Linked DNA regions of Homo sapiens: all the other regions are reported to be linked to region 7. Evidence: microRNA targets listed by miRTarBase, many of them from high-throughput screens and not tested one by one. Region 7 holds a microRNA gene; each other region holds the end of a gene's coding sequence.

Evidence for each region. Region 7 holds the annotated microRNA hsa-miR-204-5p (UUCCCUUUGUCAUCCUAUGCCU, at 2,409-2,430, shown strand). A microRNA usually pairs through its seed, bases 2 to 8, with sites in the 3' UTR of a target mRNA and lowers its output. Matches are read on the target gene's strand: a 7mer-m8 pairs with bases 2 to 8, a 7mer-A1 pairs with bases 2 to 7 and ends in A, and an 8mer does both.
Region 1: miRTarBase lists TM4SF20 as a target of hsa-miR-204-5p. Seed matches in the 3' UTR shown: 7mer-A1 at 3,183-3,189.
Region 2: miRTarBase lists POP4 as a target of hsa-miR-204-5p. Seed matches in the 3' UTR shown: 8mer at 3,217-3,224 and 7mer-A1 at 2,469-2,475.
Region 3: miRTarBase lists NPTX1 as a target of hsa-miR-204-5p. The part of its 3' UTR that is shown has no 7-base or 8-base seed match.
Region 4: miRTarBase lists ZCCHC24 as a target of hsa-miR-204-5p. Seed matches in the 3' UTR shown: 7mer-m8 at 2,738-2,744, 7mer-A1 at 3,534-3,540 and 8mer at 3,564-3,571.
Region 5: miRTarBase lists MIER3 as a target of hsa-miR-204-5p. Seed matches in the 3' UTR shown: 7mer-m8 at 2,164-2,170.
Region 6: miRTarBase lists PTPRT as a target of hsa-miR-204-5p. Seed matches in the 3' UTR shown: 7mer-m8 at 1,027-1,033 and 7mer-m8 at 2,352-2,358.

The regions. Positions count from the first base shown.
Region 1 is chr2:227,360,299-227,364,365 of GRCh38, forward strand. It overlaps TM4SF20 (transmembrane 4 L six family member 20), which reads right to left. Exons shown (of 4, transcript NM_024795.4): 4 at 1,740-3,714. The coding sequence ends at 3,426. Among named protein-coding and RNA genes, the nearest start is that of TM4SF20, 17 kb to the right of the region's middle.
Region 2 is chr19:29,614,972-29,619,038 of GRCh38, reverse strand. POP4 (POP4 ribonuclease P/MRP subunit) reads right to left here. Exons shown (of 7, transcript NM_006627.3): 7 at 1,802-3,795. The coding sequence ends at 3,659. Among named protein-coding and RNA genes, the nearest start is that of POP4, 11 kb to the right of the region's middle.
Region 3 is chr17:80,467,415-80,471,481 of GRCh38, reverse strand. It overlaps NPTX1 (neuronal pentraxin 1), which reads left to right. Exons shown (of 5, transcript NM_002522.4): 5 at 448-4,067. The coding sequence ends at 669. Among named protein-coding and RNA genes, the nearest start is that of NPTX1, 7.2 kb to the left of the region's middle. RefSeq lists an enhancer at 2,833-3,557.
Region 4 is chr10:79,382,608-79,386,674 of GRCh38, reverse strand. It overlaps ZCCHC24 (zinc finger CCHC-type containing 24), which reads left to right. Exons shown (of 4, transcript NM_153367.4): 4 at 217-4,067. The coding sequence ends at 330. Among named protein-coding and RNA genes, the nearest start is that of PPIF, 37 kb to the right of the region's middle. RefSeq lists an enhancer at 1-612.
Region 5 is chr5:56,919,462-56,923,528 of GRCh38, forward strand. MIER3 (MIER family member 3) reads right to left here. Exons shown (of 13, transcript NM_001297599.2): 13 at 142-4,067. The coding sequence ends at 3,667. It also overlaps a transcript of SETD9 not described here. Among named protein-coding and RNA genes, the nearest start is that of SETD9, 12 kb to the left of the region's middle.
Region 6 is chr20:42,077,073-42,081,139 of GRCh38, reverse strand. PTPRT (protein tyrosine phosphatase receptor type T) reads left to right here. Exons shown (of 31, transcript NM_007050.6): 31 at 208-4,067. The coding sequence ends at 261. The region is part of intron 2 of LOC101927182 (a long non-coding RNA gene); the gene reads right to left. Among named protein-coding and RNA genes, the nearest start is that of CHD6, 460 kb to the right of the region's middle.
Region 7 is chr9:70,808,394-70,812,460 of GRCh38, reverse strand. It overlaps MIR204 (microRNA 204), which reads left to right and starts at 2,377; the gene lies at 2,377-2,486. All of the region lies in intron 6 of TRPM3 (transient receptor potential cation channel subfamily M member 3), which reads left to right.

The sequences.
Region 1 (4,067 bases), not on the chromosome of region 7:
ATACTTAACATTAAAAAATGACACACTATTAATACAGTGAAAAAACTGCGTTCAAGTAACTAAGCAGCACAGGGGCATCACCAGATACTGCACCAGCTGTTAGACAACAGCCACAACCAAGAACAGCCACGGCAAGTTTCCTGTCCCCACTGGCGGTACTGTTGGAGTAAAGATTACTGGACACTATTTTTTTCAGTGAGAAGAAACATGAGAAGCAGTTGAGAGGCTAGGAAGTGGATCCTGTGGAGACGAGGCATTCTTCTCAGTGGCTTTTTAAAGTATTTCTTCCAGAGTCATCTACCTCATGAACAATGTTTTTGTCTGAGAAACCTCTCTTTGCTTTTATAAACTGACGTGATTTCTTGTTCTGTTTTGAATACACACTGCTCTAGTCCTTCAAGAAGCCCATCACGTATTTTCACCATATAATCTGTAGGCACTTTTTCTGCAATGTTAATGTCTTCACTATTAGGATCACCTTTGATTCAGAACCGTTCAGCTATTTCACCATGGGTTGATGAACAACTGGAGACCCATCATCGATGTTAAAAACTTCAACATCCACTTCTTCCAGCTTACTGACGGACTCTGAAGGTATATTTTTTACATATATAAGGAGGTCAGACATCATTTTTTTTTCTCACTTGACATAGGGATTCCTTCCAAGTCACCACCTTGTTTATCATCATCACTGAACATAGTTGCAGGCCAGAGGTTGTGCTGGACATTCAGAACTGTGTCTTTAGTCACCGTGTTCTAGTTGTTGGCAACAGCATATGGCATCCTTCATGCTAAACTTGTTTTGGAAACCTTCTGTGCCATGCCCTGTTCACTGCTGCTAACATGCTATTCCAATAAAGTTTTTATATTTACTCATTGATGTAAGGATACTCTGGTCACTGGCTGAATTAATGAAGTCACATTTTGGGGAAAGTACATGGCATAAATATTTTGGGGGGTGATGAGAAAATTTGTAAGCACCATTGCTGACCCTTGTTCACTAGAGTACAGTGAGCTGTCTTATTTTTGTTTTAATTACATGACCATTAGCAGTTTGACAGTTCATTGAGTAAGTATCGAGTCTTCGCTAAAAGCTGAGTACTGAAGATAGGATTCATTAATTCATTCAACTAAATGCAATGTTTCTGCTTTGTACCAGGCACTGTACTAAGTACTCTTTATACCAGGAGGGAATAAACATGTTCCTGTACCCCTGGAGCTTATAGTCTAATGGGGGACAGTGAAATTTAAGAAGCAAGCACAAAGGAAAATGCAATCATCATTGTGATAAATGCTGTAAATGAAAGCATGGTAAAAGAGTAAAGGGAAACCTAGTTTTCATTAGACGTTTAGGAATAGCCTCTCAGAAAAAGTGGTATTTGTGCTGAAGTCAAGGATAAAGAGTGCTGCCAGAGATAAGGCAGGTGGGGGTAGGAATGGGGCTGGAGGTGGGGAAATGAGAGGCGTTGCTAAGGACCTGAAGAGGTGAGGGCTGATGAACGTGGTTCCTGTGCTCCTGAATACTATAGTGATGGACGTACAAACACATGTATGTTACATTATGACAGGAATGATAATAGAGGCTTGGGTAAGTGCTGACTTGGTTTATTGGATCATGAGCACTGGGAAGGCTTCCTCAAGTAGGAGATACTTAAGCTAGGCCTTAAGGACAAGTAAGTATTTGTAGGGGTGTAGGAAGAATGTTTTTATATAGTAAATGTTCAGAAAAAAGGCTTATAAGCTCTTGATGTTACTAAATTTATTTAGGCAGCTATAATGTAGGTACTGCAAATTATTTCTGGAACCTTAAGCCCAATGAACATAAACAATTGAAATATAGAAATAACATTCAGAAAATTTTAGATTTTTAGCTTTGCTGTTTTACAACATTTTAATGTGATAAATACCCTTGTTATCCTGTTTTTTAAAGATTGGCACATATAGAAAATAGCTTTTGAAAGTCTTGGGTTTTTCTAGGTATTGTTTTTTAATTAATGAATAATGTAAACATAGGAAAATAGGAGGGTATAATGAATTGCCATGTACCTGTCACCTAAATATAACAGTAAACATCTCCCCGTTGCTTTTGGTTGAAGTAATTTTAAAACATATAAATATGCATTTCTTTTTTTAAAAATGAGGACATTTCTGTATACAGGTTGAGCATCACTAATCCAAAAATTCAAAATCCAGAATGCTCCGAGATCCAAAACTTTTTGAGCCAGTAACGTAACACCACAAGTGGAAAATTCCATACCTGACCTCATGTGATGAGTTGCAGTCAAAATGCAGTCAAAATTGTGTTTCATGCACAAAGTTATTTAAAATATTGTGTGAAATTACCTTCAGGCCAGGTGTTCAAAGTGTGTATGAGACATAAATGAATTTTGTGGTTAGACTTGCATCCCATCCCCAAGATGTCTCATTATTATAGGCAAAATTCCAAAATCCAAAAAAATGTGAAAGCCAAAACACTTCTGATCTTAATCATTTTGGATAAGGGGTACTCAGCCTTTATACTATAAAACCATTATCAGACCTACCAAAATTAACAATAATCCGATTCTTCTACATACTCCTCCCAATTATCTCTGACAAAGTTTACATGTGTTTAGCTGAAACATGCCTCTATTCTCTTAATCTATAACAGTTCCCTCAAAAATATTTTTCTTTTATAACATTTTCCTGTTGAAAATTGGGCCATTCTGTGCCCGCTGACCCACTTTTTGGATTTGTCCTAGTGTTCCCTGCAAGCTGAGAATTAGATCTAAAGACTTGATTGCATTCAGGTTATGTATTTATTCTTTAAAGAAATACAATAAAAAGGTCCTGTCCTTTAGGCGCGATGGCTCATGCCTGTAATCGCAGCACTTTAGGAGGCTGAGGCAGGCAGATCACTTGAGTCCATGAGTTCGGGACCAGCCTGGGCAATATGGAAAACCCCCATCTCTACTAAAAATACAAAAATTAGCTTGGCATAGTGGCACGCACCTGTAGTCCCAGCTACTAGGGAGGCTGAGATGGGAGAATCACCTGAGCCCAGGAGGTTGAGGCTGCAGTAAGCTGAGATAGCACCACTGTACTACTGTACTCCAGCCTTTTTTGAGACCCTGTCTCAAAAAAAAAAAAAAAAAGTCCTGTACTTTTATTTTCAGGATGACTTCCGTTCCTTCTCATCCTCCTTCCCTTCTCCTTTCTCTACACACAGTGAAGAGGTAAAAAATTTGAATAGTACAACACAAAACTAATTGAAAATTCTCTCCACCTTTCCCAAATCAACCACTGATATGAGAGTGTTATGCATTTACAACGTGCTTTCTACGTGAAGGGTTGATTTTTTAAATCATCTCAAAGATGACTTTGAAAACAAGTGTACTTCTCAAATTAATTCAAACTACTGATACTTACATTTTATTCCCATTAAACTACACAATTTGACTTCTTCGCTTAGAGACTCCACACAGACAGCCAAGGAAACCGATGACTATCTGACTGAGCCCAAACAGGACCTCCAGAATTCCAACAAGCAATAGACCTAAAAATACTGAGAAGTGGATAAGCCTATGTTTGTTTTCTTCAGAATCGAAGTGGAAACTAGATGCTCTCCAGCCACTCGCCATGGTGTCGTTACTGGTGGGTTTATTGAAACCAGTAGGAGGTGCACAAGAGTCATTGAAAAACCACTGCAAGTTGAAGGATTCTGGATGAATGTCACTGAAAAACAAAAGATAAAAATCAGATATTCAGAAATATCCCTGACCAAAGGAAAGTAGCATTGTGCACATAAAAGAATGAGTGAAACGAATGTACTTTTGAAATATCGTGCCCAGAAATGACAGAGATCAGGGTTTCTGAGCATGTGTCCATATACTCTACTAGTTACAAAACTTTTATTACTTATATAGCCCATCATTTAACAAGCATCTCTATGGTACATCTTCTCTTAGGTTGAACGGTATGAAACTGCTGTTTTGGGATGTCAGAAATAGTTGAATGTCAACAGTTTTTCGTGGTTCAACCTATTTATTTTATTTATTCAGATACTCTTCTACTTGCTAGATATAAAA
Region 2 (4,067 bases), not on the chromosome of region 7:
GCACCCACTAACTCTGATATGGGAAGTTCCAGGATGCCATTCCAGGAACGCTGGGTCTAGTCTAATGGCCCCACTTGACAGATGGCGGCACCAAGGTCCCCAAGACTTCAGAACTGCGTGAATGGATCAGCAGAACTCCACCTCCTGCCCCATGGATTAGGGCTTTTCCAGCATCTCTGCCATCTCTCCACTCCTGGCAGCCATATACCCCTTCCGGCCTCTCCTCCTGCCTGCCTGAGCCCAGGGGGCAGACCCTCGCAGGCTTCCCCTGCCTTCCTGGGTCCTCCACAATGCTTCTGCGGGCTCCTGCCCTGAGCCTTGGTGTGAATACACTCTTCACACCCACAGCTGCCTAGAGCCGGAGCCCCTGCTCCAGGGAGACTTCTCTGCCCATCCTGCCCACCTGCACACGCATTTCCTCCCCCATCCAGACTGTGCCTGGCCCCAGCGGGAGGAGGAGTTCAGCTGTTTGCAAAAGTGAAGGGGAACTGGGCAGCTCAGGGGCCCCGGGTACTGGAGGGAGCAGCCCTGGACCCAAGTTCCTGTATGAGCATGTCACAGAATCCAGTGGTGATGGCAGCTCAGGGGCCAGCATTGGGGCTGGCTGGACTGGCTAGTGGTCCAAGCAGCCCATATGGGGGAAAGAGAAGGCCTGGCTAGTGTCTGAGGTTGGGAGTCAGGTAGCTGTTGGAGTCTTTCTGGGAGGCACAACCAGGCTGTCCTGGCTGGGAAAGCTTCGGGGTGGCTGTGGACTGACTTGGGTCTCCAAATTCATATGATAAAGCCCTTGCCCCCACTGTGACTGTCTGGAGACTTTCACGAGTTCATAAGAACACGGCCTGATCCAATAGGACTGGCGTCCTTCTACAAGGAAAAGACCCGAGGGATCACTTTCCTTGCACACAGGGAGGAAAGGCCATGTGAGGACAAGAAGGGAGAGGCCTCTCCAGAAACCAGCCCTGCCAGCACCTTGATCTTTGGCTTCCAGCCTCAAGAGCTGTGAGAAAATGCTGCAGCCCCAGTGTGTGGCATTTTGTTATGAAGATTAGAGCAGATGGATACATCAGCCATGGCCCACGCTGTCCTTTCGCTGTCCTTTCTCCTCCAAGAACCTCATCCTTTCCCCCGAGGCTCTGGCCTATCCTCTGCAGACCCTGTGTGGCAGCTGGGCACTGGGAAGATGTAAAGGGCCCCTGGGCCCCACTCTTTGAGCAGTGGGTCGCTGGGCTGATGTCTCCCAGTCCTGCAGCCTCTGGGTCCTGTCCTGAGTTGCTAACCACTCTCTCCTCTTTGGCACTTTCTCTGGTGCATGGAGGCTTACACAAGTCGAATGTGGCTCTGTCTCCCGTGGGACCACATGGCCAAGGCCTCAGCTCTGCCAGGGTCCTGCTCCTTGGACAGTGGACATGGGAGAGATCGGGCCAAAAAGCACCACATTACCCTCCATGACAAGCTGTGCCGCAGCCTGTGGAGACATGGCAGCCCTGGCCCCTGCCACGGCCCCTGGGCCTCAGATCATGCTTTCTGCAGCTGTTCCTCATCAGGAACCATGTCCCGCCCAGCTGGGCCCTCCCCTTTCCCTCCTCTACCTGGGAGATATGACCCCTGGGTGGGCCATGAGGGCAACAGTGTATCCTAGAAACAGGCAGGCACAGCGGCAGCTTAGTGGCCGGTGAGCACCCTCACCATGTCTCCTTGGGGGAGAGGGAGAGGTATCTACAAATTAAACCGCCACTCACACAGAAACTTGAGTCTGAGCTAAATGAAAAACAGATTTCACATGGCAAGTGGTACCTACAACTTTTCTGGAAAGCAACTGTGTATTTACACAACAGTGGACGCCTTTTACATTGCAGAGGGGCGGGTAAGAGCGGGATGGCTAGGAAGCTACAGCACCTATTTGGTTATGAACACAGCATTTTCAGATGGCTGGGGGAATAGATGCCACTTCCCACTCAAGACAGGGATTTGCTCAGCGGGAAAGCAGGTAATAAAGGCAGCACATCCTGCACTTTGAACTGCATCCGTCTCATCCTGCAGCCACCCTGTAGCTCAAAGCACAGTTCTGGAGCCTATTAGGTCCAAATCTCAATCTACCCTTGAGTCAGCGAGGCCTTAGGCAAGAGGTCCCTCGAAGTCTGTCTTCCTGTGGCAGATGAGGACGGCCACACCACAAGGCAGTCGCTGGGCCGGGGCCCGTGTCCGAGGTGGCAGTGTGCTTGGGCTCCATGTGCCTAGCCCGTGCGTGTGTTCATCACTGGCAGCGGTGACTGCGTGCTGCTTGGGGGAGAGCACTTGAGCTGCCTCAGAACACCCTGGTGAGCGGAGGACACTTGCATGGATGGAAGCAGGACCGAGGCACCGTGTTGGTCCCTGTGAGACTCTGGGTGCACTGAGCTTTGGGGAGGGGTGGTGGCACAGACCTGGGCCTTTCTACTCTCCTGGCACACAGCAGTCAGCGCTCCCACTTCCCTTCTCCACTACGGTGTTTCTCTCTGGTGTGGTTTGGGTGGAAGTTACCAGAAACGCAAAGCCCTGGCACTGCTACTTCTCCTGGGGGAGAACAGATTTGTGGCCTGCCTTTCGCCAGGAGGGCTCCTGGCCTTGCCTTGCTGATCGGCAGAGACTTGCTCCTCAAAGGGAAGGGGTAGTTGGTCCTTCTGAGCCATGTTTCCAACCCATCTGGTAGGCTGGTCCCCTGCCCCGCTCTCACTGCAGCCCTGGGCCCGCTTTTCCTCTGGCCCTGCATGGAAGGGCCTGACCCACTGGCTTTACAGACACATGGTCACAGAGGGCCAGGGTCAGACTGAAAAGCCAAGTCTTTCAGCAGCAAAAATGGCGAAGATATCAAAGGGCGTCAATGCTGCTGGCTTGGCTTTTGCAGCAGGTCTCACCTCGGGAGGTGATGCCGGGCGACCTCCTTTCAGTCCTCCATGGCTCAGCCTGGCAGCTCAGGAGTGGGCATGCTGCGGCAGGTCCCATCTCACTACGCTGGGGCAACCATGCATGGGCACAGCTGCATGCAGTACTCTGCTCCTGGGGTCCACCCCAGCTATGATTCCTGAAGTGAATAAACCCTAAGTCACTTAGCAACTCACCCTTCAATCCTCTTCAACCTTCCTGAAATAGCAAAGTAAACCTTAGGTGGGTCAGAGTTCCACCCAAAGGCGAGCCTCTGTAGACACCTGCCATCCAATGGACCTTTGGGGACCCCCCTTCCCTTTCAACCTGGCTGGACTGCAGCAATACCTCCTTTATTTGATCCCTGTTTATGTCCACATATGTACTGTATTATCACAGATGCAACTGATTTATCATAGAGCACTCAGAAAACATGGAAAAGTATTTTTAAAAATCGAATAATCCTATTCAAGTCAACCAGTGTTAACCCCGGTGTGCTTCCTGCCAGTCTGTTCCTCCCCATGGGAGTCACACAAAATGAAAATCTCCTAGAAAGAGAAATTCCTCTGTCCTCTGACTTCTTCACTTAGTACGCTGCGACCTTCCCATGTTGTTCAACATCCTCAACTCGGAGCGTCACTGGCTGGAGGTGGTCTATAAATGGAATTGGCTTAACTATCTCTTCACTGAAAGGTGGACATTTAGGGAGTGTCCAGTTTTCAGCTGTCATAAACAACTGCCTTAGACGGCAAAGAATTCACAGGTCAATCGTTCCCTTCGCTTTGAACTTCTTCGCAGACCGTTCACTTGACCGAAGCTGGAATTTGCTCCCGTAAATGTAGGAAATAAAGCCATCGGTTTCCACAGTGAACACGCAGTTTAGCTTGGGGATAACTGAAAAAAAAAAAAAAAAAGGCAGGAGAAAAAAAGATGAGGAAAAATATTTATTAATATTTTACTTTTAGGTAGAATATTATTCAGAACACATTGAATGAAAAAAATAAGCTAATAGGAAACGGGAAACCCACAAGGGGAGGGGCATTAGGGTTGCCTGTGGTTATTCTGCCACAGGTCAATCTAGTCACATGCTAAATGTAGCTTGGCACCTAATCTTCAGGGTCAAAGGCTATACACCAAATTCCCAGAACCAGAAAGTCCCAGAACAC
Region 3 (4,067 bases), not on the chromosome of region 7:
TTTAGTGATGCATAATCTAGTTCCCGTGAAGTGGTTTGTCTCCTGTTGGGCACCTGGGAGGAAGACGAAGGGATGGAGAATCGGGGACGTCTGTCCCTGTTGGGCAGCTTTAGCTGGCATGGAGTGATGTCTGGGCAGGGGCCCCAGGCCCAGCTGCTGTGGTTGTCCATGGCTGAGGGACCAGCTGCAGGAGGGGCAGAGTCCAGGTCCCCCCAGGAGAAGCTCCAGGGCAGAGGTGGTCGGTGCCATCCCTTTTCTTGGGCTCCCCCAGAGGAGGGATGGATGTAGGGCTGGAGAGTCAGGGACAGGGAGACGAAACGGCACCTAGGAGTGTCCGTGAGAGTCCGTGATCGGGCAGGCACAGAGGCACTCAGATCCCCGGCCTAGGGATGGGCCCCCAGACCACCTGGCGACCCCTCCACTCTCATCCTCTGTTTTTCTCTGAAGGACACTCTGGGTGGTGGGTTTGATGCCACCCAGGCATTTGTGGGTGAGCTGGCCCACTTCAACATCTGGGACCGCAAGCTGACCCCCGGGGAGGTGTACAACCTGGCCACCTGCAGCACCAAGGCTCTGTCCGGCAATGTCATCGCCTGGGCTGAATCCCACATCGAGATCTACGGAGGGGCCACCAAGTGGACCTTCGAGGCCTGTCGCCAGATCAACTGAGCACGGCAGGCCAGGCTGAGCCCGCCCGCCCTCGCCCCCTGCTTGTGCGGCGATGATCTGTTTTGTGCGTCTCTTCTCTCCCTTTTCCCCAGGAATGAACCGAGGCCGTCGCCCCTGCACACGCACACGCACACAGCCTGGTTTTGTCCTCATGCACACGAAGCAGCCCCTGCTCCCATCTGTCCCTGAGGAAGCCCCACTTCTCTGTAGGAGCCCGGACTCTCTCAGGCATGCCCCATTCACAGCTGAAGTGGGTGCTGCAACGTCTTGAACAAGGCAGAAGTTGGTGAGAGGATCTGTGTGTGCGTGTCTACATGTGTGTGTCTACGTGTGTGCGTGCGTGGCTGGGGGAGGCCTTTTCTTTGAGGACGTACCTCATTTCCTTCTTTCTTCTGGCTTTGGAAAAATCTCATGATGAAAATTCATATTTGCCAACTTTGTTAGCTGCGTGCGTGCTTTGGGGTTGGTGCAACCTCAGTACACGCATTTGTCTTTGTTTGCAAACCTTTCTCAGAGCGACATATCTTTATATTGATGTAATAAATGTCTTTTAGTGGTTTGTCAAAGGCCGGGGGCGGGGGCTCTCTACAGAGAATTTTTATTTTGTAATAGAAGTGAACTGTCTCTGAAGGGTGAAGGCAGGCCGTCCTGGGATGGTACCCTGTGCTCTCCCGTGGAGGAGAGGGGATGGCTGAGGACACTGGCCCTTACCCCAGGGCCAGACAGCATCCATCCCTGCTGTTTGCATCTGAGAGCAGCATGGGGCCTGGGAGGTCGGCCTGTGTGCCCAGCTCAGCTAGCTCTGCCCCAGGACGGCCCTGCCCTCGACCTTCCCACCTCCTCAGATCCTGCAAGGCTGGGGTCTGCCCCTCCCTTCTCACCTCTGGAGCTGTGCTGCACTGCTTCAGCCCAGAGGGCCCTGAGAGAGGAGCGTGCCACCCACAGCCCGGGAAGCCGGGCCCCAGCACCCCTCTCCTTTGGCCTCCGGCAGTGCAGACCAGAGGGGACCTTTTAAGGAAAGAAGCCGTGTTTCGATGAAGACCTGGCCACATGGGGCCACTGGGACTTCAACCCAGCCCATCGGTGGGAAGGTCCTTTTTGGGGGACTTTGACAGCCATATCCCTCCCAGCACACCAGGCGCCAGGTGAGCTGGTTCAGACCCCTCCAGGGGTACTCCAGAGACCTCACGTGTGGAGCCAGGCCTGGCCAGGGCAGGGGCCTGAAACCCACTCCTCCATCTCATGGGGCTCACGGCCTACAGCAGCCCACAAGCTGCCACTGGCCGGCGACACTGACACCTGAGCAGTGTCCAGAACCTTTTTGCCTTTTTTTGTTCCCCGTGAAAAGCAACATGGACATTTCCTTCTAGTCCTTCCAAGGAGGGGAGAGAAGTGTATGTGCATTTGTGTGTGTGTGTGTGTGTTGTGTGTGTGTGTGCGCTAAGTGAGAAAGAGAGCAGGCTCGGGAGGCCCTGCCCAGGGTAGGAGGAGCTTCCTGCTTTGCACCATCTGGTGGTCGCACGCCCTGAGGGCACCCCGACTCTGTCTCCAGGAGTCTCATCAGCAAACCGCTGACAAGTCTTTCTAGAAATTCTACTGCACTGCCTGGCTCAGCTGCAGCTGCAGACATTTCTGCAGGAGGAGCAGGTGTTTCTGTCTTCTGTTCCTTCTAGGGCCACCTGTCCCCTTAAACACAGGTCCACGTTGTGTCAAGAACCTAGTGCATCTGTGTGTGTCTGTCAGTGTCTCTGTGTCAGTGTTCTCGTGGGTGTCTGCACGGTACCCGGCCGCCGTTCTGCAATGCATCACTCCCGCAGAGGGGGGTGCAGATCAGGCGCCGTGCTGCGCGTTGTTGTTCAACAGTGGCTTTTTCTTAGATAATCGTGCTTCCTCAGCGCCCGTCGGGTTGTGGCATCCTTGGATCTGCAGGGATCTTCTCCGTTTGCATGTTCCTCGGGGTGGCGTGTTCCTTGCTCCCTGGGTCCGACATGTGTTCCCGCACCTGCATGGACTGCCCCGGTTCTGTGTTGTGTGCCGAGTGCCGCCCAGTGTTCTGTGACCACCCGTGTAGCTACTGAAAATGGCTGGGTAAGCAAGTCAAGGGTGTTGGAGGAGGTCAAGAGAGAGCTCAGTTTCCCTCTCCCCCTCCCCAAACACACCAAGAAGCATTTTTAACGTGTAGGTTGAGAACAAGCCTAAAGGATTCCCACAGCTGGGAGCCAGCAAGAGAGCTTGGAGTCGCCTCTCTAGACCAGATCTAGCCCCACCCTCACTCCAGCCATCTCGGAGCCCTTGTGTAGGCAACGCCCGGTGCGGGCTGTGTGGGGTGCTCCCCTGCCAGCACCTCCGGCCAGCCCCGCCCCTGCCGATCTACTGGACCGCAGACCACCTTCTGCCCCCGTGGGCCAGGTGGGAGCTGTCCGTTCAGGACCATGAGCCATCCTCTGCCCTGACTAGCGAGGGGCAGAGCACACCCCAGTGCTTACGCCTCCACCCCTGCAGCCTCCTGGCCCGCTCACCTTCCTCACCCCTCCTCTGACCCACCCATGGTGCCAGGGCCGAAGCTGACCTTTAGCTCCCTCCTGCCCCTTGCTAGGGTCTGAGCCAAGCCCCTCGACTCCCTCACTGTGTTGACACTTGGCACTTTGCTGGCCCCGAGAAAGGTCGATGACACAGCCGCAAATCTAATCCACGTAGTTCCCATTTACTCCTTAATCTGATTGATGTTCCCTCTTGCACTGAATAATACATGCCTCTCTCAGGTAAGCCATTTTATAAAACAAGAAGATAAAAAGCACTGTTGAGGCAGTGTTTGCTTTTGCCGAGCTGGTGTCCGACAGCTCCCTGGGTGTCCGGGGTGGGAGAGCTGTTGACAGAAGCTCTCCGGGCCCTCAGGGGCTTAGATCCCACTTGAGTCGTAAGCCTTCTTGCTTTTGATAACACAGTATTATTTCTCTTACTGTAGAAGAAAAAGTTTATTACCAAACAAGAGTATTTTTATGAAAGAAAAGGACAAACCTATAAATTAACTCAACCTATATCTCCCTTGAAAATACTTTCAGGCTCCACCAAAACGTAGAACTGAAAGCATGTATTTTGGAAGAAAGAGATACATTTTGTATGCTTTCTTTTCCTTTTGTAGATTCCCAGTTTATTTTCTAAGACTGCAAAGATCACTTTGTCACCAGCCCTGGGACCTGAGACCAAGGGGGTGTCTTGTGGGCAGTGAGGGGGTGAGGAGAGGCTGGCATGAGGTTCAGTCATTCCAGTGAGCTCCAAAGAGGGGCCACCTGTTCTCAAAAGCATGTTGGGGACCAGGAGGTAAAACTGGCCATTTATGGTGAACCTGTGTCTTGGAGCTGACTTACTAAGTGGAATGAGCCGAGGATTTGAATATC
Region 4 (4,067 bases), not on the chromosome of region 7:
CCACAGGCGCCCTCTCCCCACCCCTCATCGGGTGTGTGTCTCTCCCTCACTGTGTCTGTCAGTCTCTGTCTCTGCAGAGGTGTGCCTCTCTGTCTGGTCCCCTCCCTGTGTACCTGTCTCACCTGTCTGTCTCTGTGTGTCTCTCCCTGTCTGTCTCTGTGTTTCTGTCTTTCTCTCCCCTCACTCCCCTGGGCCCCTTCCTCCTTCTCTCTGCAGAGACCCCTGGAGAAGCCCGACGGCCTGGACGTGTCCGACCAGAGCAAGGAGCACCCGCAGCACCTCTGCGAGAAGTGCAAGGTCCTGGGCTACTACTGCCGTCGCGTGCAGTGACGGGCTGCCCGCCCGCACCCAGAGCCACCCCCCGCCAGCCCGAGGAGACGCTGCTTCCCTGTGCTACTCCGAGGGGCTGCGTGTCGCCCTGTGCATGGGGTGCCCTCGCAGGCCTGCGGGGCTGGGCCGGGGGCTCTTAGCGTCCTTGTCTTGTGTGTGTTGACAAACAGTGTTACTGACATTGCTGCCCCCCACAGGCCAGGGAAAGCAGGGAGTCTGGGGCTTTTTGCAGGCGGGCCTGGGGTCTCAGTGGAGGGGACAAAGGCAAGCAAAAGCCCATGTCCAGGAGCCCTGGGTGTCCCCACAGGCTCGCCTCTGAGAGCCTCTTTGGGGTGAGCAGCCTTGTATTGGCCACAGGTGCACTAAATTGACTGTGAATCCCAAACCTCCCCAGACCAGCCAGGCCGCCTGCCCCCACCCAGAACCTTCCGGTTTGCCCTGTATGGAAAGCCACTCTCAGAAATCCCTCTTTCCTGAGTCAGCAATCGTGGCAAGGGGACATGTGTTCCAACAGCGGCTGGGGAGTGGACCTCTCTGTCCCTTGCCCACCTTAAGCCCCAAATCCAGACCCCCTCTGACATCACTGGCATTGCACCTGGGTGTGCCCCCCTCCCCACGCTATGGACCCAGATAGGAGGGGTTAGGCATGGGGGAGGCACAGAATGCTGGAGAGATGCGTCCTGGTGAACGTGGGGCAGCCCCTCCCACGACCCCCACCAGACTGCCTTAGGTTTTGTCAGCCCCACTCCCTTTCCTTCCCCTCTGCCTCCCACCCACTCTGGGGGTCCACATCAAGATAGCTGGGCCCAGTGTGGAAGCCCAGCGTGTCTGTTCCAGCAGAAAGGACACAAGCCTGGTGTTCTGGAGACCTCGGCTCAAGTCTTTGCCCTGCTGCCGACGCATTGTGTCACCTTGGGCAAGGACTTCGCATCTCCAGGCCTCAGTTTCCCCATTAGTTAAATGACAGCATAACACTAGAGAGCAGAGGGCCCATTTCAGCTCTGTTGTTCTGGGATTCAGGCTGGCCGGTGCTGTGTCCTGGAGCTTTATTTGGGGAGTTTCACCCAGAATGGTGGGAGAAACCTCCCAGGTGCCAGGTACCCCGCATCGTGACCCTTCACTTGGTGTCTTAGGAAGTCAAGCTGAGGGATGCTGAGTCCTCCCCTGCTGGCCCCTGCAGCCCCAGCCCTGCTTTTCATCCCCCACCCCTGCAAACATGGAGGAGCCCCCTCCTTCTCACCTCGGTCTCCTAGCCCCTGACATGGAGAACCCTGAGACAAGCCACAGAACCCCTCTTTTCTAAAATGGAGACAATAATTTCCTACCTCCCAAGGGAGCAGAGAGGCCTCGTGGCACGTCCGTGGCCAGGGAGCCCACTGTCCTGGCTGGCGGCGGGATCGTGCGCTCCTCTGTCTCCCGGATGAGAAGCCCCGTTTCCATGGTCTTGACCCTTCCTTTCTCCCGGCTGTCAGAACTGGGTCTCTTGATTTTGCCCCTACATTATGCCTCTGTGGGAAAAAAAAAAAATCAGACCAAGAAATGAGCCTGAAATTCAGTGTTTACCATGGCTCAAGGATGCCCATCTGGTGTCCAGTTGCCTTTTGTATTCAAATGAAAATGCTTTGTACAACTGAGGAGTTACAGTGAAGTGTTAACCAGGGGTCCAGGGAGCGAGTTGAAAAGATGGAGTGAGTGTATTTGCAGCCAGGGAGCTGCAGGGTGGATTTGAGGGGCCATACCCTCTGAGCACTTAAAAAAGGTATTTGCTCCAGGCCAGGCAGCAGGCTGTGGACACCCTTGCCACCACTGGGGACTGCCACTGAGGACTCCCCGAGCACGTTGTTCCCCGTCTTCTCCAAGGTGTTGAGGTGAGCTGGGGTTGGCCCCGGCCCAGGCTTCTGTCCCAAGGAGAAGCTGCCACTGACAGTCATCCTACCGCACTGCTAAAGAGAATGTTCGCAGTGGTGGGCGGCGTGCCTGTGCCAACCCTTCCAGGGACCCGGCCATGGGGGACCTTGGCCCAAGGATGCCTGGGGCCTGCCAGCTGTGCTGCAAAGGTGGGGGGCCCACACCCTAAAACTAACCCAGGCCCCAGACCACTGGAGGCCAGGGCTTCCCTGCACGGGCTAAGGGGAGTTGGGATATCACCCCAAAGTGACCTTGCCAGTGAGCTGTTCAGCAGGTAGCCACTGCCCTGCCATCTGTGCAGAGCCAGCCACCTTGGGGGCTGGGGTTCCCGCTTTGAGGCCCACCTTCCATACTCCCCTTGACTCGGCTCTGGCTGAACTGGGGAACTCTCTTGTGGTCAGCAAAGCCCCTGCCATGCAGGCCAGGTGCCATTGAGAATTAAGTGCTCAGAGGGCCAGGAGCCCAGGGGATGGGAAAGTGTGTGGTTTTAGTACGTTCAAAAGGGACAATCGCTTGCAGTTGGTAGATCTAGCGATCTAGTTGGGAGATAATGGTGTTTACCCCATATGAAGTATTCAATAGTTCTACTTGTGAATTTGTATTTATTTTGAGTTATACTTGACACAGAATTCCTTTTTTAAAAAAATATGTGTGTATTTTGGAAAAAAAATTCATAGATGTTAAAATTTCTGCATGGTTACCAGTTTTTCTCACAACACTGAATTTGGTAGCTTTTCCCGAAAAAATCTTCACAGTAATTTTTTGTCTGTATATATTTGAGGGCCTTTTTTTAAAAAAAAAAAAAGAAAAGAAAAATATAATTGTTTGATTTTTGAGATTAAAACAAACAAAAAGAGAGGCATTTTCAAAATTTCAGAACTTTCAGGAGGGCAAGAGAATATCAAACAAAGATTTCTGGAAGTATTTTGCCAACCTTCTGGTTGAGCTGCAAGAAAATATTTATGGTGAGAACTTTTCTGTTTCCCGTTATTGGGTTTTTGGTTGGTTTTTGTTTGTTTTTTACTATGCTTTGGTCTGTAAAAATATGCAACTGAACTACATTCAGAAGGAAATATTGTCTACATAGAATATTATATGAAGTTGGTACATAATTCTGATGAGGAAAAAAAATCTTTGCAATTCTTTAAGCCATATTGTTGTTTTTCTGTGTTGTTTTCCCTGGATGAAAATATCAGTATTAAGTAGACAGCATATTATTCAAGTGTTTAGACTTATTAATATGTTCTTGTCCTGTATTTATACATATGTGTATTTTGGAAAGTATTGCCTTTTTTAAGGGAAGCTATAATTCGATACATAGTGAAAAAGGGAATGGTGACCCCTTTGTGCCTCTTCCACTGAGGATAACAAACAGCATTGTAATCCATTCTCTTGCACCTTCTTCTTCTTATCTTGTTATTACGGTTTTATTAATTTTGTAGAGGGACAGGGAGTGGGCAAGGGGAAGAAGCAGCTTATTTGACTAACCAGCCCCTCTGTGGTCCACCAGCGTCTTGGCTTGGTGGGAGGGCTCTCAATCAGCAGGGCCCCAGGAGGGAAGAAGAAGTGGGGCAAAGCCTGGCCTCGCCGCTCGGGAGCTTTGCCATCTGAGCCACGCCTCCTCCAGGCCATGCTCCTTGAACTTGGAAATGTCAACCGGAGCCCTTACACCAGCCCTCCAGCATCTAATAGACTTGAATCTACTCTAAACGAATATTTAATCCAACCTCACTACATTGTAGCTCAGTCCAACGACTAACCCTGAAATGGGGGTGTTCCAGCCTTCAGCGAGATGGCCAAGCGGTCCCCTGGGGGCTGTGGCAGCGGGC
Region 5 (4,067 bases), not on the chromosome of region 7:
CTTCACTATCTATCATATATCTTATTTACTGCATCTAAAACCAATTTAACAGTGGTATAATATCTATCTATTTGCTGTAGCTTAAGATTCATTAAATAAAATATCTGTATTTTTGGCAAATATTCACACAAACCAAGAAAAAAAGATTCCCAGATTTTTATTTCTGGAACTGTACACCAGGTATTAAAGTACAACAAATACAAAATAATGCTCAAAAAAATCAGTGTTTATGTACAAATATTAAAATCAATGCAATAGCAACTTCCTCTTGAACATCTGATACTGAAACTTGTTCTGATTGTCACTAATTTATCTCATACTCACAGGGTACTTATTTCAAACTGGGACAATTGGAATCACTGGTCATCTAAGAGGAATATTAATATCTACCATATTTAACAATAAAACTAATAGTTTCCTCCATTTAGTGAAAAAATTAGGAACTTTTTAAAAAACATAGTAACGTCAATATTTTATAAATTATTTCAATTTCCATTTGTAGACAATGTGCTTTGAAACTCTGGGCAAACAATCTCCTTGGTGGTCAGGTTTATTTGTTAGTTTACATTCAAAGTTGAAATATTCACTAGAGACTTTGGTTAAATTAAATAGTATCACTATGCTCTATTAGATCTGATGTTCTCAAATATTTATGAGCCTCAACATTTTAAAAATTAAAAAGGAAATGATTGCACAATTCTTTGATCTAATTGTACAAATTTTAGTATTTTTTAAACAGTATTCTACATCCTTCAAGTAAATTCAGCAGCTGACCATGACAAGAGGAAAACTAAACATTTAAAAAGCTAGCATGAAAAAGATGAAGTACAACTAACAAATGTATTGCTATAATCACAGCACCAGTTACACTTCTAAATGAATCCACTGTCCTTTTCAAATTCCCTGTACATAAAAGATATATCAGCCAACACTGCAACTGCTCACCATGAATTTTTGGTTTGTTCATAAGAAAATAATGGGGCAAAGGAAAAAAAAACAAAAAGAATTTATCACAGTTTGTTATAAGAATTGTGCTTAACACTTGATAATAAAGGCATTATTGTTTCTTCACATGATTGCAAATCCGGTTGTTTTCTTGCTTCCAAATGCAATTCTTTTAATAAACAGTAACAAATTCTCTGTTAAGATGTTTAAACTGAGAGAAAAAAAAAACCCAGTAAATCCAGCTTTTAAAAGAAAATTCAATAAATAGCTATTTTACATGGATAAAGTCATAGTGGTACAATTTATGAATGTCACATCAAGCATGCACAAAAATGGTATTATACATGGCAGAAGTAGTCAGAAAATATTGAATTAGATCTAAAAAGATATGAAGAATTTACACTTATATACAAAAATCTTGCAAATTATTGCCTCATTTTAACAAGGAATTAAAAGTAAACATTACCAGCTAGTTAGCACTCTCTAAGAGGCTAAAATCAGATTGACATTTAAAAATCTATTAAACTAGCTGGAATTTATTTTTCTCTCATACCATTTTCTGGATTTTGGTCAAAAATCTTTATTTAAATAACTAAAGTGTCCATTCAACTTGCTGATAATCAAAACTTTAGATAAGAAACACTGTTTCCATCTTATATCAAGACCCCAGCAATGCATAGATAAACTGAATATATTACTGCATCAGCTACTGAGAATGGGCATGTTCATTTAAGTGCAACTGGTATTAGCATTCAGTCATCTTTGTGTAAATTATTTATACAGACCAGCCACTGTAAACCCAGAGTGAAAATTAAGGTTATAACAATGGAAGATTATGGCCAGTATCTTACTAAATTATAGAAAGTGTACTGATTTTTAATAAAAGAAATAAGGTTCAAAGTTTAGCACAACAACACAGCAATAAGAAGCTGACAACTTGGATAAAAATACAAGAAAGTAACACAGAGCCCAGGCTACCCATTATTTACTGTGTGCATACAGGAATGCTATACTTCAGATGTATAAATTAGAGACTGATTTTAAGTTATTAATTTAACTACTTTTTGTCCACTGTGCTAAACTAAATTTTATACTAATGTGCTACTGCGTAAACACTTCAAAGCAATCTTCATTAAAATGCTGCAAAGAAAAACAAGAATACACATCATCCAAAACTAAGGATGTCATTGCAGTTCACAGTTTGTATAATAAATACCCTCCCTTTCAATCACTACTAAGATCACTACATCCTATCTACTCATCAGCACAACCTTGAAGCAACTTATACTTACAAATATTAGCAATGCAGCCAAACATTTGTTTTTTGCAAAGCAACTAGTAAAAATCAAGAATTTTAATTAAGACGGTGCAAACAACATAATTCTCTATTTTAACAGTACTACAAAAGCAAAGATTACATCCTAATACTGTATTACATATTGTTTGATTCACCTTATAACTTAAAAATGCATGTTTATAGCACAAAAATGGCCAAAGTTTAGGACAATGGCTTCTCATTCACAATATTTGGAATAAAAATAAAACTGAGTTTGAGATACATCTGAACATCTATCAATTTTTAAAACTTAAAAGTGGTAATGTACCATTCTATTTCAGATAGGAACTCACATTATTCTTGCCAACTGTTCAAGCTTAACAAAAAAGCTTAAATATACTTCAAGGTTCTACTGCATTAGGTATAAAATCTAGAAGTCCCTCTAAATATTAACACTTTGAACTGCAGTGCTACAAACAACTTAAAAGATGTCCCAAAATGTAAACCATTGAGTGGCAACATCCTAGGCTTTGTAGACTGTGCCTCTGCAAGTCGACTGCCTCAGGATAAACTAAATTATCAATGACTGGTATGATTTTTAAGATTACAATCTTGACAATGGTGGACAAAACCCCATCTGAGTACCACATCTTCAAATGCCAAAACTGTAGCCAATAAATGAAGTTACACAGAAATCTCCTGGCAGTAACATGACCAATTCTGTGTAAGGTAGCCCTGGTCTAGAATTTTGAAACAGGATCCAAGCAAGCGTCTTCATTATTTGCACACAGTTCCTTGTGCTGGCTTCCATAAAGATGGACTTGCTGTTTTGTAAACTGAAGTGCTCTAGTTGAATAACATGAGAGAAGTTTCCATTTTTAAAAAATCCTTGCATGTTTGTGCAGTTTAAAGAAACCTACCCCTGCTTTTATTAAGAAAATAAAACCAAAAAAATGCTACATTGAGCAGGGATCGGGATCGGTACCTGTAAACATTGTTATTCCACTGCATCCATTACGGCAAAAGGAATTTACACAAAAACAGGCCACACCATTCAGTTCAGAACATCTGTGCTGGTTTTGAGCTGGTGGCCTCTGTCTACAGGTTTTAAAATTGGGAGTGAGGGCAGTGGGGAACACAAAAGAATAGAAAAAGAAGGGAGTGGGGAAGAGGTATTGGGAGATGAGGAAGAGAGAAGCAGAGCTTAAAGCTGCACCACAGAGTTCAATCTTAGTTCCCAACTCTGCTGATCATAGTTCATTTCCACATTTATGGATTGAAAAATGAAAATACTCTTGATAAATCAAGATATAGTTCTATACATACTGACATCACTGATGTCATAGTGAGAAAGGTTCAAACTTCCAGTGAAAGACTATGCAAACCTGATAGCTCCCCTCAAGTTTACTGGTGCTGCACACGCAGTTCCGGGATCCTCACTCAGGTCACTCAGAGTGTAGGGCCGCGTGCTGATGCAGAGCATGGGCACTGATGAAACCATTGGTCTCGTTGGCAGAGAGACTGCCAAAGTCAGCCACAGAAACAGCCATTTTGGCACTGGTGATGTGATGTGTGTGATTTTCAAAGTCCACACCCAGGTTATTTACAGAAACTTCATTCATAAAGGATTCAGGGACGGCAATGCCCATTTTCAATCTTTTTGCTGGTCTCTCTGACTCTTCACTGCACATGTTCATAGGGTTTAGCTCCGAGTGATAAAATCCAGTCTCAAATAAATTAAAACAATCACTTTCCCCATTGCTGGGCAGGGTGAGTAACTCTTCTGTTACAACAGGCACATGATTAACTTGTCCACGGGGTGTGTTGCCCAGTGGAGGAAAGCTAT
Region 6 (4,067 bases), not on the chromosome of region 7:
CATTCGAGGAAGCTTGGGTAGAAGCAGGCATCAAGCAGAATTTTGAAGGATGTCCAGATATGGGTAATTTTGAGTTGACATAATATGGATATAGAAAAAGTTTTCTCCAAAATCTGTATCTCTAAACTAAATGCATTTTCCCTTTCCTTTTTCATCTCTCTCGTCTCCTCTTCTCCCTCTCTGCCTCTGCTCCTCTCCGCCTCTCAGGAACAGTATAAATTTGTATACGAGGTGGCACTGGAATATTTAAGCTCCTTTTAGCTCAATGGGATGGGGAACCTGCCGGAGTCCAGAGGCTGCTGTGACCAAGCCCCCTTTTGTGTGAATGGCAGTAACTGGGCTCAGGAGCTCTGAGGTGGCACCCTGCCTGACTCCAAGGAGAAGACTGGTGGCCCTGTGTTCCACGGGGGGCTCTGCACCTTCTGAGGGGTCTCCTGTTGCCGTGGGAGATGCTGCTCCAAAAGGCCCAGGCTTCCTTTTCAACCTAACCAGCCACAGCCAAGGGCCCAAGCAGAAGTACACCCACAAGCAAGGCCTTGGATTTCTGGCTCCCAGACCACCTGCTTTTGTTCTGAGTTTGTGGATCTCTTGGCAAGCCAACTGTGCAGGTGCTGGGGAGTGGGAGGCTCCCCTGCCCTCCTTCTCCTTAGGAGTGGAGGAGATGTGTGTTCTGCTCCTCTACGTCATGGAAAAGATTGAGGCTCTTGGGGGTCACTGCTCTGCTGCCCCCTGCAACCTCCTTCAGGGGCCTCTGGCACCAGACATTTGCAGTCTGGACCAGTGTGACCTTACGATGTTCCCTAGGCCACAAGAGAGGCCCCCCATCCTCACACCTAACCTGCATGGGGCTTCGCCCACAACCATTCTGTACCCCTTCCCCAGCCTGGGCCTTGACCGTCCAGCATTCACTGGCCGGCCAGCTGTGTCCACAGCAGTTTTTGATAAAGGTGTTCTTTGCTTTTTTGTGTGGTCAGTGGGAGGGGGTGGAACTGCAGGGAACTTCTCTGCTCCTCCTTGTCTTTGTAAAAAGGGACCACCTCCCTGGGGCAGGGCTTGGGCTGACCTGTAGGATGTAACCCCTGTGTTTCTTTGGTGGTAGCTTTCTTTGGAAGAGACAAACAAGATAAGATTTGATTATTTTCCAAAGTGTATGTGAAAAGAAACTTTCTTTTGGAGGGTGTAAAATCTTAGTCTCTTATGTCAAAAAGAAGGGGGCGGGGGAGTTTGAGTATGTACCTCTAAGACAAATCTCTCGGGCCTTTTATTTTTTCCTGGCAATGTCCTTAAAAGCTCCCACCCTGGGACAGCATGCCACTGAGCAAGGAGAGATGGGTGAGCCTGAAGATGGTCCCTTTGGTTTCTGGGGCAAATAGAGCACCAGCTTTGTGCATAATTTGGATGTCCAAATTTGAACTCCTTCCTAAAGAAACCCAGCAGCCACCTTGAAAAAGGCCATTGTGGAGCCCATTATACTTTGATTTAAAATAGGCCAAGAGAATCAGGCCTGGAGATCTAGGGTCTTGTCCAAAGTGTGAGTGAGTCAATGAGAGGGAACCAACATTTGCTAAGTCTCTACTGTATGCCAGGGATCATGCTTGGCACTTTCCATAGGACATTTCACACAGTCCTTAGAACCCCCAGGAGAGAGCTACTGACTTGTTATCATCTCCATTTGATCATCTCCTCCAATGAGGAAACCCACGCACCTTCCTTAGTAATGAAATCCTGGGTTCCAAAGGGGCAGGTAATGGCAATGAGACTTCTCCGTGCTGTTTTCTTCATCTTCTCTAAGCCAAGCAATTATTTTATGGAGGGAAAATAAGGCCAGAAACTTCTGAGCAGATAACTCCACAAATGGAAATTTAGTACTTTCTTCCTGATGCCAGTTCTTCTGGGAAGCGCAGAATTTCAGATATATTTTAGTAACACATTCCCAGCTCCCCAGGAAAGCCAGTCTCATCTAATTTCTTAGTCAGTAAAAACAATTCCCTGTTCCTTCAGGCTATGAATGGACCAGCCAGGGAAACTCTCGACCTTGATCTCTAGCCAGTGCTTAGGCCCAATATCTGACAGCCTCAGGTGGGCTGGGACCTAGGAAGCTCCATCTTGAAGGCTGGTCTAGCCCCAGACAGGGCATGAGGGGCAGAGAATTCAAGAAGGTACAGCTTTGGCCCTCAAGAGCCCACTGTATGCTGGGGAAATGGAACCATGGTGCAGTAGTGTGGAGTGGATGAGTGTTCCATGAGCCTAGGAGCAAGAAAGTCTCTTCGGCCTCGGGCTTCCTGGAGAAGGGGACGTCCATTCCTGCTGGGTCTTAACAAGCATAAAAAGGAAAAAAAGGAAACTCAGGCAAAGGGATCCATATGTGCAATGGCAAAGAAATGTGAAAAGGCATTGGGAGAAGCAGTCTGGGGGAGGCCAGCCCAGTGCGGGCACAGCACAACACGGGGAGCAGCAAGAGATGAGCCAGGGTCCAGGAGACAGATGCCCATCGCGAGTACAGACTTTGTCCTATTGGCAACAAGGAGTCCATGGAGCTTTAGAGAGATGCACTCAGCTTCGTGTTGGCCAAGACTCCTTCTGGGCCAATGGGGCTGCCTCTTTTCCTTTCATCAGACACTGTGAAAACATTCCCTTAAGCGTGCACTTTTTAATATCACATCTATTTGTCTGTCTGCTCATTGTTTTGTTGCTGGAACTAAATATGCAATGGATCATGAGACTCAGATTCTATGAGAAACCCAGGGTCTCTGCTTTACCACGGAGCAGGGTCACCAACCCAGATCTCCAGGCCCATGAGGATGGAACATGAAAGGAGCCGACAAAAGTTGCTTCCATTGGCATGGGCTCTGGAGCTGTCCAGAAGTCCAGGGACACCAGACTTGATCAAGGAAGGGCTGTCACTTTAGAGGTTCAAAAGGAAGTGCCTCAAAGCAAAGGCAAGCAAAGGAACCCCACGATGAACTTGCTCTTTTCCTTTGATGAGCCTCTCCCCAGGTGTATTTCAGCAGACCCCGGGGACCCACCCCCACTGGGCCTGCTGGCCTCCCTCGGCTCCAGCCCAATGCCCCAGCTGGCCTTCCCCAGCCTGCAAGGAGCCTGTAGCATGGCAAATCTGCCTGCTGTATGCTATTTTCTTAGATCTTGGTACATCCAGACAGGATGAGGGTGGAGGGAGAGCTATTTAACACAAATCCTAAGATTTTTTTCTGCTCAGGAAGGGGTGAAATAGCTGGCAGATACAAAAGACAGTGGCTTTTATCATTTTAAATGGTAGGAATTTAAGGTGTGACTTCAGGGAGAAACAAACTTGCAAAAAAAAAAAATCTCAGGCCATGTTGGGGTAACCCAGCAAGGGCCAGTGATGATTTCCCCCAGCTCATCCCCTTATTTTCCCACAACCCAACCATTCTCTAAAGCAGGACAGTGAATAGGTCTTAGGCCAGTGCACACAGGAAGAAATTGAGGCTTATGGATGGGGATGACTTCCCTAAGATCCCATGGGACAAGGATGTGGCAAGGCTTGGATGAGATGGGGCACCAGTGCCCAGGAATTTGAACATTTTCCTTTACCCAGGAAATCTCCGGAGCCAACACCACCACCCCCAGGGGGTCTCCCCACCCCACCCCATTTACAGGGTGAGCTCAGCCTGTCATGAGCAGAGGAAAATATTATTAATGCTCTCTGAGTCTTTACAACAGGAGCTCTTACCTCATAGATGTGGGCTCTGTTTGGGGAAGATGCAAGGAAGTAATGAGAAGCCCAGGAAATTTCTCCACCTGTGTTTATGGCCTAAATAGCTTCAGGATGTATCTTAGCTGCACTCCAACATTGCATCCTTTCTGGGGTGAAGAATCTGGGCCAACCAGGGGTCCTTGGGCCTCTAGAAGGCCACAGTAGGCCTCTCTTTGTGGGAATGGAAGGGGACAGTTTGCTTTTAGTGCTGGCCCTCTCTGTGGGTGTGGCCTGCAAAGGAACCAACAGACCCTATGCTGGGGACTCTAACATGTGAGCTCATTAAATTCTTCCAGCATTCTAAAGGAGGGTTTGTGATTGTCACCATTTA
Region 7 (4,067 bases):
AGAGGAACCAACCCTTAGAGGCTGTGCTTCAAGTGATATTGCTTTGCATTTTCCCCAGTGAGTACATTCTTATGAGAAGGCAGCTTTGCCAGGGTATGGGTGCTGACATATAACCAAGTGATGTTGATGTTTCATGAAAAGTGGGTGAGTTCCTACATGCCTCTCACCAGCCAGCTACCAGCTGCCAAACTCCTACTTCCCAATATTTGCCACAAGTGAGGCTGCTCTCAAAGTCTAGCTTGATCCTAGGAAGCTAGGGTCTAGAGATCTAACTTGAGGATTTGGGATCTTCCCTTAATGCTGTCTCTAAGGAAGGAACAAAATGAAGGCAGAGCAGAGCTGTTCATACTCATGGGGTCCTCCTCTGAGACCATCTGACCAAAGGCTAGCTTGCTTAGCAACTCCAGAAATATGATATTACCATTAAGTTTATCTCCTAGTTTGGGAAACAATAACCAAATTGGTAGGAAACCTGCCAATTATACTGAAATGGTTTTGATGACTTTTTTGGAAGATATGTAGACATAGTCATAGATGTAGATATATTTATATCTATACCTTGGCCAGAGAGAGAAAGAGGAATCAGTCCAATTAATAATATTATGCATGTTGAGTAACATGTTAGCTTTGTTTCAATTCCTCTTTTAAAAAGAAAAGAAAAGAAACTGGGTAGATTAGCCTCTAAATGGATAGTTCTTTTAAGTCAAAAGTAGCTAAACACTTGAAACTAGAACACTTATTTCTCTAGAAATCAGGAAAATGTTATTAAAAGGAGGGAAGGAAAGAATTCAATTCCTATCGTCTCCTGGAAAACACAGAATTGGAAGATTCATAATTATCATTATAATTAATATAACAACAACTAAGATTTCTTGAGGTTTTACTAAGTTCTAAGCATCAGTACAAGCACTTAACAGATATTAACTCATTTGACCCTTTCCACACCACAGAAGCTATCTAGGCTGGAAGAGAATAAAGAATGATACTTCCTCCAGCAAAGAGCTATGATTTTTAAGGACCTGTCCAGTTGAAGGAGTGATAAGACAAGATATAGCTGGTGCAGAAGGGCTGGATGATGCTCTACATAGGTTTCACTGTGCAACTTGAGTTGCCATCACGTATATAAATTTATGTAAATTGGGTAATCCATCTGCTTTAATAAAATGTGTATGCAACCACAGGGTGTAGAAATTTCAAAGATTTTATTTTTTGACAGGATGCCTGCCGTTTTTCTCTCTTGACTCCCGCTTGTTTTATTCATTTTGGGGTAGTTGCCAGTTAGACTCAGTTGGTAAGTATAATTAATGGAAAATGTGAATTTCTTCTTAAACTCCAAGAAATTAACCACAGAAGTCTTCATTTCCTTTATAATTTCCTAACAGTATCACTCCCTATGACTGTTGTTTTATCTCTATCTCTTCTGACATTCAACCACATCAGAAATTAGTTACTCCCTATTATTTATCATCCTAAAGATACCATATAGGACAGCTTGACGGCACTATTGGGATACTACTAGGAGGGAATGAGCATTTATTTAGGTTCCAAGCACCATGCTAGGCATTTTCATATATACTATCTCTTTTAATACTCACAAAAACCCTTCAAGATAGGGATTATTTTCTTCCTTTTATACAGTTGATGAAATGGCACCTCCAAGAGGTTAAGCCTTTGCCTTAAATCCAATTAGTGGCACAGCTGGGTGCAAACCTAGGCTGACATAATTCCAAAATACTTTCTCCTTTCATCCTACACATGGAAGCATTATCTCATTTTTTTAAAAAGGCTCCCCTAAAGTTTGGTTACCTTGGAGAGTTTGAGGGTCATTATTCCATTCAGCAACTATTTGAGCACCAACTCTGTGCCAAATATAGGTTGAGCATTGATTCAGTTGGAATGAGTCATCAAGCAAAACTTTGGGAAGAAGATGGTGGTTAGTTGCAAGATGGTGGAGAAACAATATTAGGAAGAAATACAACAGGGTGCTGGAGAGGAGCGTGGGGATGGAGGCAAGCAGAGGACCTCCTGATCATGTACCCATAGAACAGGGCGATGGAGAGGAGGGTGGGGTTGGAGGCAAGAAGAGGACCTCCTGATCGTGTATCCATAGGACAGGGTGATGGAGAGGAGGGTGGGGTTGGAGGCAAGCAGAGGGCCTCCTGATCATTTACCCACAGGACAGGGTGATGGAGAGGAGGGTGAGGGTGGAGGCAAGCAGAGGACCTCCTGATCATGTACCCATAGGACAGGGTGATGGAGAGGAGGGTGGGGGTGGAGGCAAGCAGAGGACCTCCTGATCATGTACCCATAGGACAGGGTGATGGAAAGGAGGGTGGGGGTGGAGGCAAGCAGAGGACTTCCTGATCGCGTACCCATGGCTACAGTCTTTCTTCATGTGACTCGTGGACTTCCCTTTGTCATCCTATGCCTGAGAATATATGAAGGAGGCTGGGAAGGCAAAGGGACGTTCAATTGTCATCACTGGCATCTTTTTTGATCATTGCACCATCATCAAATGCATTGGGATAACCATGACATGAAATTTTCCATCATTGGGCCCATAACTGTCCCATAAGAGAGATGAAAAACACTGTATGTTAAAGGTCATAGTAGAACTTCATCCAAGCAGCTCTGGAATTAGGAAGGAGTGAAATATACTCTCAAAGACTAATAGTTCTGGGTCCAAACCATGTGACTTGAAAAGGAAGCAAAGATTCCCCTGGACAGGTTACATATACTGTCATGCATTGCTTAACGATGGGGTTACTATATCCTCAGAAATGAATCATTAGGTGATTTTGTCATGAACATCATAGAGTGTACTTATACAAACCTAGAAGGTATAACCTACTACACACCTAGGCTATATAGTATAGCCTATTGCTTGTAGGCTACAAACCTGTATAGCATGTTACTATGTGGTAGTGAATACTGTAGGCAACTGTAACACGATGGTAAGTATTTGTGTATCTAAACATAGAAAAGACACAATAAAAACATAGTATAAAAGATACAAATAGTACACCTTAATAGGGCACTTACCATGAATGGTGCTTGCAGGACTGGAAGTTGCTCTGGGTGAGTCACTGAGTGAGTGCTAGAATATTTTTGTATACTACTGTAAACTTTATAAACACTGTATAATTAGGCTATACTAAATTTATTTTTTAAATTTTATTTCTTCAAAACTAAATTAACCTTAGCTGACTGTAACTTTTTTACTTTGTAAACTTTTTAACGTTTTAAAACTTTTAGACTATTTTGCAATAATACTTAGCTTAAAACATAAGCACATTATGCAGCTATACAAAAATATTTTCTTCATTTGCTTATTCTATGAGCTTTTTTCTGTCTTTAAAATTTTTTATCTTTGTATTTTTTAAACTTTTTTCTTAAAAATGAAGACACAAACACACTCATTAAACTAGGCCTGCACAGGGTCAGAATCATCAAGATGTCACTAGGTGATAGGACTTTTTCAGCTCTATTACTACCTTATGGGACCACCATTGTATTTGTGGTCTGTCATTGACCAAAGTGTCATTATGCAACACATGACTGTATATCAAGAACATCTTATTTCCTTCTGTGGGTGCTACAATCTGTTCAGCCCAATCATGCAAACTTTCTACTGCCTCAAACAGTCAAGGGAAAGGCCTTCCAAAACACAAATACCAAATTGATGATCAGTTCACTTTAGACTGTAATGACATCATTTTTCAGGTGCTGTCAAGTAAACATGTTTAAAGCTTTCTCCGCCTTTTAGAGGGTCTTCCCTCTAAAGAATAATTTGTGAGGAATAAACAACACAATCTATATCCCTGCTTTTTCATTATATGAAACGACTTGACACAGTTGGCTGTGTAACTGAAATATTTGTCATGCTTGTTAATGAAAAGTTACTTTGTCAATAAAGGTAATAATGAAGCCAAAAAAATAACTTTGAGGGAACAGAGCAAATTTTAGCGAAACTGGTTTCTTGGTATTGACTTGTCATGTTTATCTCACCCATTTTCCTATTCAAGCTAAAGACCTCCCTTTTTTCAGCAAAGAGACTTTTCTACATT